2 linked regions of the Homo sapiens genome follow. The protein of the gene in region 1 purifies or fractionates together with the protein of each later gene. This does not show direct contact. Each region holds a gene or a part of one and is shown on either strand. Other genes may lie near its edges. The genes, in order: RAB41 and PPP5C.

Region 1 (4,276 bases):
CCAAGACTCTTCCTGTGGTTAACAGGTCTTAAAACATTGTATCTAAGAAGTATGAAAAACATGGTAAAAAGTCCCAGCCAGGTGCCATGGGCCTAAGAGGCAAAAACCCTCCTGCCTTAAATTGGTTCTTGTTTGAAATACTTGGATTGGTTCTATGTTAGGGCACCAACATGAGATAATTGCATTGTGGAAATATAGGTATAGTGTGGAGAAAGCACAAGCAATAACAGCCTTAGGTTAAAGAACCATTTATTGAGGGTGTAGGTAAACAACAACAAACAGTGGAGAATGAATTGTATTGGCCTTTGAAGTATGTCAGCTGCTGTAGAACTGTATTCTCTACAGATGTCTTTTAGCTGTCGGAGAAGGTAAGGTAGAATTCCCAGGTGCTGCAAGAAGCTTCCACCCAGTAGCTGTGAGATGCGGTCAGGAAAAAATGATAGCACTTTCAGGGGTTCTGTTTTTACCCCAAGCCTAGGAATTGGAAGAGAGTAAGTGGCCATGTATCATAAAACGAGGTGGGGAGGAGAACTGGTATGGCAAGCCCAAATGTAAGAAATCCATCAAATGAGGCAGAGAAAGCCTAAGCTGTCAACAATAGCTTCTGTTGCCTGACTCCTCGAAGGATTCCAGTTCGATTTCAACCGCTGAAGTGTGTGTCAAGGAAGCTAATACAGTGAGGTGACTGGAGTCAAATCTTAACACCCAAGGTCAGCTTCTAGGAGATGTAGAAGAGGAATTCTGATCTTACAATCCCTCTCACCTAAAGGCAAACGAAGGAACTACTTTGGGCTAAAGTTAGTCCCATTTTCCCCTTAGGTACCACTCAGGCATCAACTCAGCAAGGAAACTTACCTTCTCTACTTGTATACTCCCTACCCCAGCAAAGCTAGGAAAAAGGATACTCCCCTCTTTTGGTGGAGGTGAAGTCCTTGTGGAAAGAAGGGCAGAAGCCACACGCCGGAACAGCTGTGTGTGTGTGTGAATGGGGACCAAAAAAAAAAAAAGGGGAAAAAAAAAAGGTCAGGTTCAGAGGCTAGGATAATTCAGGGCCTTTGAGATACATGATGGGGAGATGAACCTTGACCCCTATCCCACAAAAGATAAGCCAAGCTTATCCAAAAGAGTAAACAGTAGTAGTAGCTACAGACAGAGCACAATTAAAGTATCATAGAAAGAAACAAGTATTACCTTTTTCACGTTGTAACCGGTTTTGGCACTGGTCTCAATAAACATCACATTGAGGTTTCTGGATTTTTCTTCACCCTGTTCTGCAGTGACTTGTCTGGACGAATCAGAAATGATGAAAAGGGCCAGAGTTATTGGATATGGATAGACTCTTCTGAGGTGTAATGATGCTTACCTAGGGCCAGGAACCCTAGAAGCCTTAAACCCATGACCCTTCTGACTACAGGGTGGGGACTCTCTCCTATACCCCCAACATATCCTTGTGCCCTGATGGGACGCCCCCCTGTCCTTCCCATCCTGCAGTGCTGGTAGGGGGCAGAGGGGACTAAGGTAACTCCTCCCCAAGTAAATAGAGGACAGTTGACCCTCCCCATAGAGACTGAATTTTAGGTATGCCAGAAGAAGTTGTAGTTATACTTTACCTTTTGTTATCCAAATCAATCTTGTTACCCAACAACATGATGACAACATCGTCACCTCTTTCTGCTCGCACGTGTTCTACCCACTTATCTGTCTCCTTAAAAGAATTGATGTCTGCAAGAGAATATGTTCCAGAGCGTTGAAACATTTAGGAGAGATTTGGAGAGAACACTTCCTCTCTGCTAATTTTGTCAATCTCCCTATCAATCCCTTTATAATCCCCTTTTCAAATAAAACATTGCATAACACCCACTTGTAATGTCATAGACAACCACTGCAATAGTTGAATCACGAATGTAGCTAGGAATTAGGCTGTGAAAGCGCTCCTGGCCAGCTGTGTCCCATAGCTGCAGCTGAACCTGCATAAAAATGTTTAGGAAGAAGATGGGGGAAAGGTAGACAAGAAACTAGCCTTTTTAAAAAGCTCAAACCTAATAAAGGCAGAATACAAAAGGTCAGGTAGACTGGATCCCTGAGAAGTGGCTGCTATAGCCTCAGACCAAATGGCCTATAGTCCTAGGACAGGTCCAACCAATTTCAATATACTGTTTTGATTCAGGAAGACCCTACAGCACAGCAGATTTAAGGATTCAAGGTCTCTTGGACTTTATGTTACAGTTGGAGATTAGATGAAGGCAGACAGAACAAGAAACATCATAGGGCTTGGTAATTTGAAGAGGCTTCAGTTTTTTTTGATGGTGCTACCCAACTGTGATGAATAGGCCTAAGGGGTTGAAGTGTAGGGTTAGTGGTATGAGAGTTAACACTCACTATTTGGTCCTCCAAGTACATGGTCTTAGACAAGAAGTCAATTCCAACAGTTGCCTGCAAAAGAAAATCAGATACACTCCAGCATTCCCTCTATTCCCAATATGAGGCAGTCTTAGAACCCAAAGTGGAGAATGACCCTTCAAGAAGTTGTCCTGGCTCCACTTCCCAATGCTTACAATACATAACTTTGAGGAGGAGAATCTCCAGGTGAGTCCGCCAAGAAGAGTGGCAAAAATGTACCATATGACTCGGTGGTGGTCTTACCTGGCAGGCGCAGCCGAAGCTGTTGTACATGAAGCGGCTGATGATGGATGTCTTCCCTACTGTGAGGGAGATAAGCAGGCCAATCGTCGCCCTCAGTGCCCTTTCTCCCCTCAAAGTTTCTATGAGCCCTCCCTCCTCCTCCAACTCCAATCTTTCCCAACGAGGAGGAACTCGGTTCCCCAGAGAATGCCCCACCCCATTTCATACCAATTACACCTCCATGTCCCCAAAGCCCAACCCAGACCCACACCGCTCTGCTCTCCCAGGAATAAGAGTTTAGATTTGCACAGAGACTGGTATTCCGTTCTTTCGGCAGCCTCCAGACCAAAGCCTCCGGCCTCCATCCAGGCCTCGTCGTGACCAAAGGCAGACATCGCTTCAGGTAGGTTGCAGCCAAAATGGCTTCCAACGCTCAGCCTGAGCCGCCGGACTTCACGCCATGCTCTACTGACGTCGGCTGACGGCCATTGGCTTCACACCCAGGCCTGGGCATGGCCACGCCCCCTCGGCCCCCTCCTGGCAGCTTGCACTGCGCCTGGTGTTCAGCGCAATCCTATGACCACTCGAGTGGGGTCATGGGGTGGAGAGAGGGATGGCCACTGACCGTGTCAGAGGGAAGTTGGGGTCAGCGTATGGGGAAAAGCACGGGCTAAGTGTAGTGTAATCACAGCAAAGGGGTGGAGGTGGGGAAGATTGTTCTCAGTAGTTCCGTGACCCTCCAGGAAGAGGAAATAGGCAAGAGATCGCTAGGCACATCTGAACAAACTGATTTATTAGAGTGTTACAGTGGGGGCTCCCACACAGACGGGCACCAGAGCGAGGTGCTCAGCTCCCCTCATCTCCCTCAGCCTCCACAGCCTTCTGGCTCTCCTCCTCGCCTTTCCGCGTAAACTCCTCGATGACTATGTCCTCAGAGCTTGCAGAAGCAGCAGAAGAGAATGGAAGGTTAGGAACCCCTTTCTGGGTGTCCTCCGTGTCCACTCTTTTTTCCTGATCCCAGAAAAGTGATCCCCTCCCTGCTTCCCAGGTAGGCTCCTCGGCCCCCTCTTGGTGTCCCCACTTTTCCATCAGCCACTCTGGCTTGTTTCCTTTCATTCCCGCCCAAATTTCCCAGCACAAAAGTCCCCCAGGAGCACTGAAAGGGACATAAGGATGAGGGATGGGAAGGAGGGAAGGTATCAAAGAATGAAAGACGAAAGAAGTAAGGGCGAGCGGGTGGGGGAAAAGGAAAAAGAAAAATGGGAAGGGGATGAGGGGGAAGGATGATTCCAACAAGAGCAGAAGGTGGAGGGCGGGGGGATGCAGAAAGGGAAAGGAGGGCATATGAAAAGCACCGAACTGTGACACGAAGCTAAGCCATATGTTTCCACTGCACATGTATTGAAAGCACCCCAAGGAAGCATTTTCACATTTCTATCGTCATAACATGGAGGGTGGAAATGGGAAGAGGGGAATGGGGCTTCCCAATCTTGTATTCCATTACCTAGCGGCCTCTGTAGCAAGCATGGAGACGGAGGGAAAAAATGGAGCTGAAGCTGATTAGAGGCTCTTCGGTTCCCTGAAGAAGTATCTTTACTTCCCCCCCCCCCAACTTCCCAATCCTTTGCTCCAGCACACACGACACACACACTTC
Region 2 (3,809 bases), on another chromosome or scaffold:
ATCAAGAGAACCCAAATCTGACACCAAGCCTGAATCTGAGGGGGCACAACTGCCTCGTCAACAGTCTCCTTACTCCCACCCTCGAGCCCTGGTCTGTTCACTCAGTCACTCAGCTTTAGTGCCAGATTTAGGGCCACCCAGGAGCCTGTTTCATGCCCTTGTGCAAATTAGAATAAGGGGCCCATCCTCACACCCTTGTTTGCCATCTGCTGAAAAATGGTCAGAGTAAACATCCATTTCTACACTATCTATGATGTAAACGCGTCCTTTGGTGTGATGCTTTTGTGCAGTGCACTACATACTCAATCTTAAAAGGTCGCCCTGTGCATGATCTCCGAGTCCACAAAATAAATACAGCTGCAACTATTATCCTTGCAGAGTGAGTGCCCCACTCAGGACCCCACAATGAACCCAAACCTTGTCACTTCCCAGCTCACCTCGAAGGAGGTGAAAGTGATCTGGGTACAGGAGCTTGAAGCCGAAAAGGGTGAGGATCACTTCTACAGAGAAGGAGCCTCGGTCCACAAAGTCACCATTAAATATCTGTCCTGCTGAGGAAAACATGGCAAGCGTGGAGGGGAAGGGTGCGGTGCGGTGGGGTTGGGGGTGGTGGCAGAAGATGGGCCAGATGGGCTGCTCCTGCCTGGCCTCAAGCCTCCTGTCAGCACCTCCCAGGGAGTGAGGACTTGGCAGGGCTCAAGGGATCTGGGTTTCTAATCCTTTCCTCACCGTGGCTCCAGCCAGAGCTTGGCCGCTGAGCCTCAGTAGTATGGCACTGAGGACCCTGCCTCCTGTCTCCCGGAAAGCCAGTGGCGGGGAGGTGCGGGGACTAGTCAGTCCACCTCCTTCAGCTCTCCTCAGAGAGGCCTGGAGCCATGGGGGAGATGGGACACGGGCCCTCCCACTCAACAATGCATAGGCCTAGTGGCCCTACAAGTGGCCGTTCATCGAGCAGATACCATAACACGGGGAAATACTTAGATAGCATCAGGTGTGGGCCAGGCCCTGTTCTTAACCTGTCCTCTCAGTAACTGCTGAGTAACAAGGTTGCACATATTATTATCCCTCTTTGCAAATGGGGAAACTGTGACACCAAGCAGTGAAGTAACCTGCTTCGGTCACACAGCTGGGAAGTGGCAAAGCCAGGATGGAACCCAAGTGTGGCCAGTGCCAGGTGCCATTCAAATGTGATCCTGAGGCAGACGAAGACAAGCCAAGACCCAGAGAGACTGAGCTACCAGCTTAGGTCACACAGCAGGTGGGTGCTGGCCCAGGCCTGTCCGAGCCTGGAGCCTGGGGTGCATGGCCAGCCTGCAGCTCCACCCACACCTTGGTGCCCCAGCATGGCCAGGCCTCTCCTTTCCAAGGTCACGTCTTTTCCTGGCAAGGGCTCCTCCCACTCTGTGCAGACCTGAGGCTGCGGCTGGGGGTGGAGGTGGGGAGAGGGTGGCTCTGCTGAGAAGGATACATAGGGGTTGGTCTCCGAGGGTAAACCGTTGAGCTCGAATATGTTGAGGAGGTCATAGAACTGGCCATGGGTGTCCCCACATACTGTAATCTTCTCTGTCTGAAAGAAAAGAGGCCACCGGAGAGGGACGGGCCGAGAGAGAGACGTGGGGAGGGGGCAGAGGTGAGGGGAAGGGTAAGAGTTCACAGTAGACCAAGAAGAATCATGCAAGAGACACAAGCAGGGAACACAAACGAAGACCAAGAGGCCAGGAGAGAAATGGGATATTCAGGAGGAAAGGCACAGGGGTGGGGTGTGAGGGAGAGAGGGAGGTGGATCCGTGAGTTCCTGAGCTCTGTGGCCCCTCCCCAGCCAGAGAGCCCACCCCCGCTGGCCCTCCCCGCACTGCCCCACAACGCGCACCTCTTTGAGTGTGGTTTCCACGAGCGTGCTCAGCTTGGAGAGGACCTCTTTGACCTGTACCAGAATCTGGAAGGCAGGGCAGACTCAGTGGGACCGGCTGCAGGGGCTGCTGCCCAACCTGGCCCCGAAAGCCTGGACTGCCCATGAGACGCTGCTGGGCTGAGGGCGAGGGAGAAGCAGGGAGAGAAGAAAAAGGGCAGGGCAGGCCTGGGGGAGCGGGAGCAGGCGGGGCCGGAGGCAGCCGCAGGCTTCTGTGGCCTGTGCAGTGCCGAAGCATTGCGATTGTTTTGTACGAAAACCTGATTCTTGAATTATCTTAAAATACTCAGCATCAAGTGGAAATACATGCATGAATCCAGATCGTAGAACATTTTATAAAAGAACTGGCCTGGACACAGCGCAATGTCACTGTCATAAAAGAGTCTCCCAAAAAAGAAGTGAGACTTTCTAGGTAAAAAGAGGTAAAAAGGCAGGTCATAGGCAACACTGGTGCTTTCAACGGACGCTGAATTTTTTAAAAGCAGCTAAAAAGGATGTTTTGGGGAGAGCTGGGGAGAATTAAAATACTAATAGATGTCTAGAAATGCAGATGATTTATTTTTCACAGATTGGATATGACCTTGACAATGACATGCATATTTGTCAATGTTTCCAGATTTTCCGGATGGCCTGTGGACTGTCTACCTTAGTCAGTATTATCACATCAATGATGAATTTCTAAGGTAGGACAATTCAACTGTGGTCACACAAGAGGACGTCTTTGTTTTTGGGAGATCCAGGTTATGATGGCTGCAACTTACTTTCAAATGGGTTAGGGGAAAAAAAAGAAAAAAGTATACACATACAAATGCATAAATAAGTAGACAGACACATAAAGTTAATGCATTAAAATGTTCACAAGTGGTGAATCTGTGTGAAGGGTGGACAGATGTTAACTGTACTGTTCTTTCAGCTCTCTGTAGGTCTGACGATTTCCAAAATAAGCTGGGGAAAAAGGTGTTAAGAAAATGCAGGCGGCATCCACTTCTAGTCAGAAGGTAGAAAAGTTACAAAAGACTGTCTCGCCCTAAAGATGAAAACAAGCCAAACAAGCAACAAAATCAAAGGTAAAGCCATCTGAGAGCTGGCAATGCAAAGGGACCTAAATTAATCAAAATGCAGACAGGACGAGCCCTTCCTTGGGGAAGGAGCCCACAGCTTTCACCCTGGTGCGAGGCAGCAGGGCGGGATGCCCTGCGTGAGGGGAAATGAGTGGAAGTTCATGACCGTGTGGGGACTGGCGTGACAGATGAGGACTCCAGGGAGCCCCAGCACAGCCCGCCTCTGCCCCCTGCCAACTCCCTCACACGGGCTTCATGGAAGGTTGGGCGCGAGGGAGTGAGGTGCAGAGAAACCTCCTGAGGTACAGAAGTGGGGGCGAGACTGGAGAGCGGAGAGCACCCCAGTGGCCCCACAGTCTGGCGGCAGGGCTGAATACCAGAGGCCTCCCACAGTTCCAAAAGCTGGCGACTTTAAAACATAAAGACATCCCTGGAATTCTGCCAGGGCTAAGATCCCAAGCTCTGCTGAAGGGAAAGTCCTAATTCTACTCTGAACACATTTAAAGCCGGTGGTAAAGAAACTCCAATAAAAGCTGCCCCTAAACTACAGATGAGGTTCACACAGCCCCTCCCTCTTGTGGCTCAACAGGAGAAATGTGTGCCATTTTCTTATTTGTTTATTTGTTTTAAGACAGGGTCTCACTCTGTCACCCAGGCTGGAGTGCAGTGGCTCGAACACAGTTCACTGCAGCCTCAACCTCCCAGGTTCAGGTGATCCTCCCCACTCAGCCTCCCAAGTAGCTAGGACTACAGGTGCCAACCACCATGCCTGGCTAATTTTTGTATTTTTTTTGTAGAGGTGGGGTTTCTACAAGTTGCCCAGGCTGGTCTTGAACTAC

Evidence for each region.
Region 2: the proteins of RAB41 (region 1) and PPP5C purify together in Homo sapiens (affinity purification with mass spectrometry; 2 studies listed by BioGRID and IntAct, with this or other methods). This does not show direct contact.

The regions. Positions count from the first base shown.
Region 1 is NC_000023.11:70,280,959-70,285,234, reverse strand, and holds RAB41 (ras-related protein Rab-41), read right to left. Parts: upstream 3,064-4,276; 5' UTR 3,018-3,063; coding exon 2,894-3,017; intron 2,703-2,893; coding exon 2,644-2,702; intron 2,434-2,643; coding exon 2,380-2,433; intron 1,968-2,379; coding exon 1,862-1,967; intron 1,723-1,861; coding exon 1,611-1,722; intron 1,286-1,610; coding exon 1,192-1,285; intron 970-1,191; coding exon 906-969; coding exon of another isoform or gene 799-905; exon of another isoform or gene 648-798; coding exon 592-647; 3' UTR 233-591; downstream 1-232. Other genes in the region: ARR3 (arrestin-C), read right to left, coding at 3,469-3,559, 4,127-4,136. UniProt on the Homo sapiens protein: The small GTPases Rab are key regulators of intracellular membrane trafficking, from the formation of transport vesicles to their fusion with membranes.
Region 2 is NC_000019.10:46,381,538-46,385,346, reverse strand, and holds part of PPP5C (serine/threonine-protein phosphatase 5), read right to left. Parts: exon of another isoform or gene 2,823-3,809; intron 1,937-2,822; coding exon 1,871-1,936; intron 1,568-1,870; coding exon 1,469-1,567; intron 544-1,468; coding exon 438-543; intron 1-437. UniProt on the Homo sapiens protein: Serine/threonine-protein phosphatase that dephosphorylates a myriad of proteins involved in different signaling pathways including the kinases CSNK1E, ASK1/MAP3K5, PRKDC and RAF1, the nuclear receptors NR3C1, PPARG, ESR1 and ESR2, SMAD proteins and TAU/MAPT.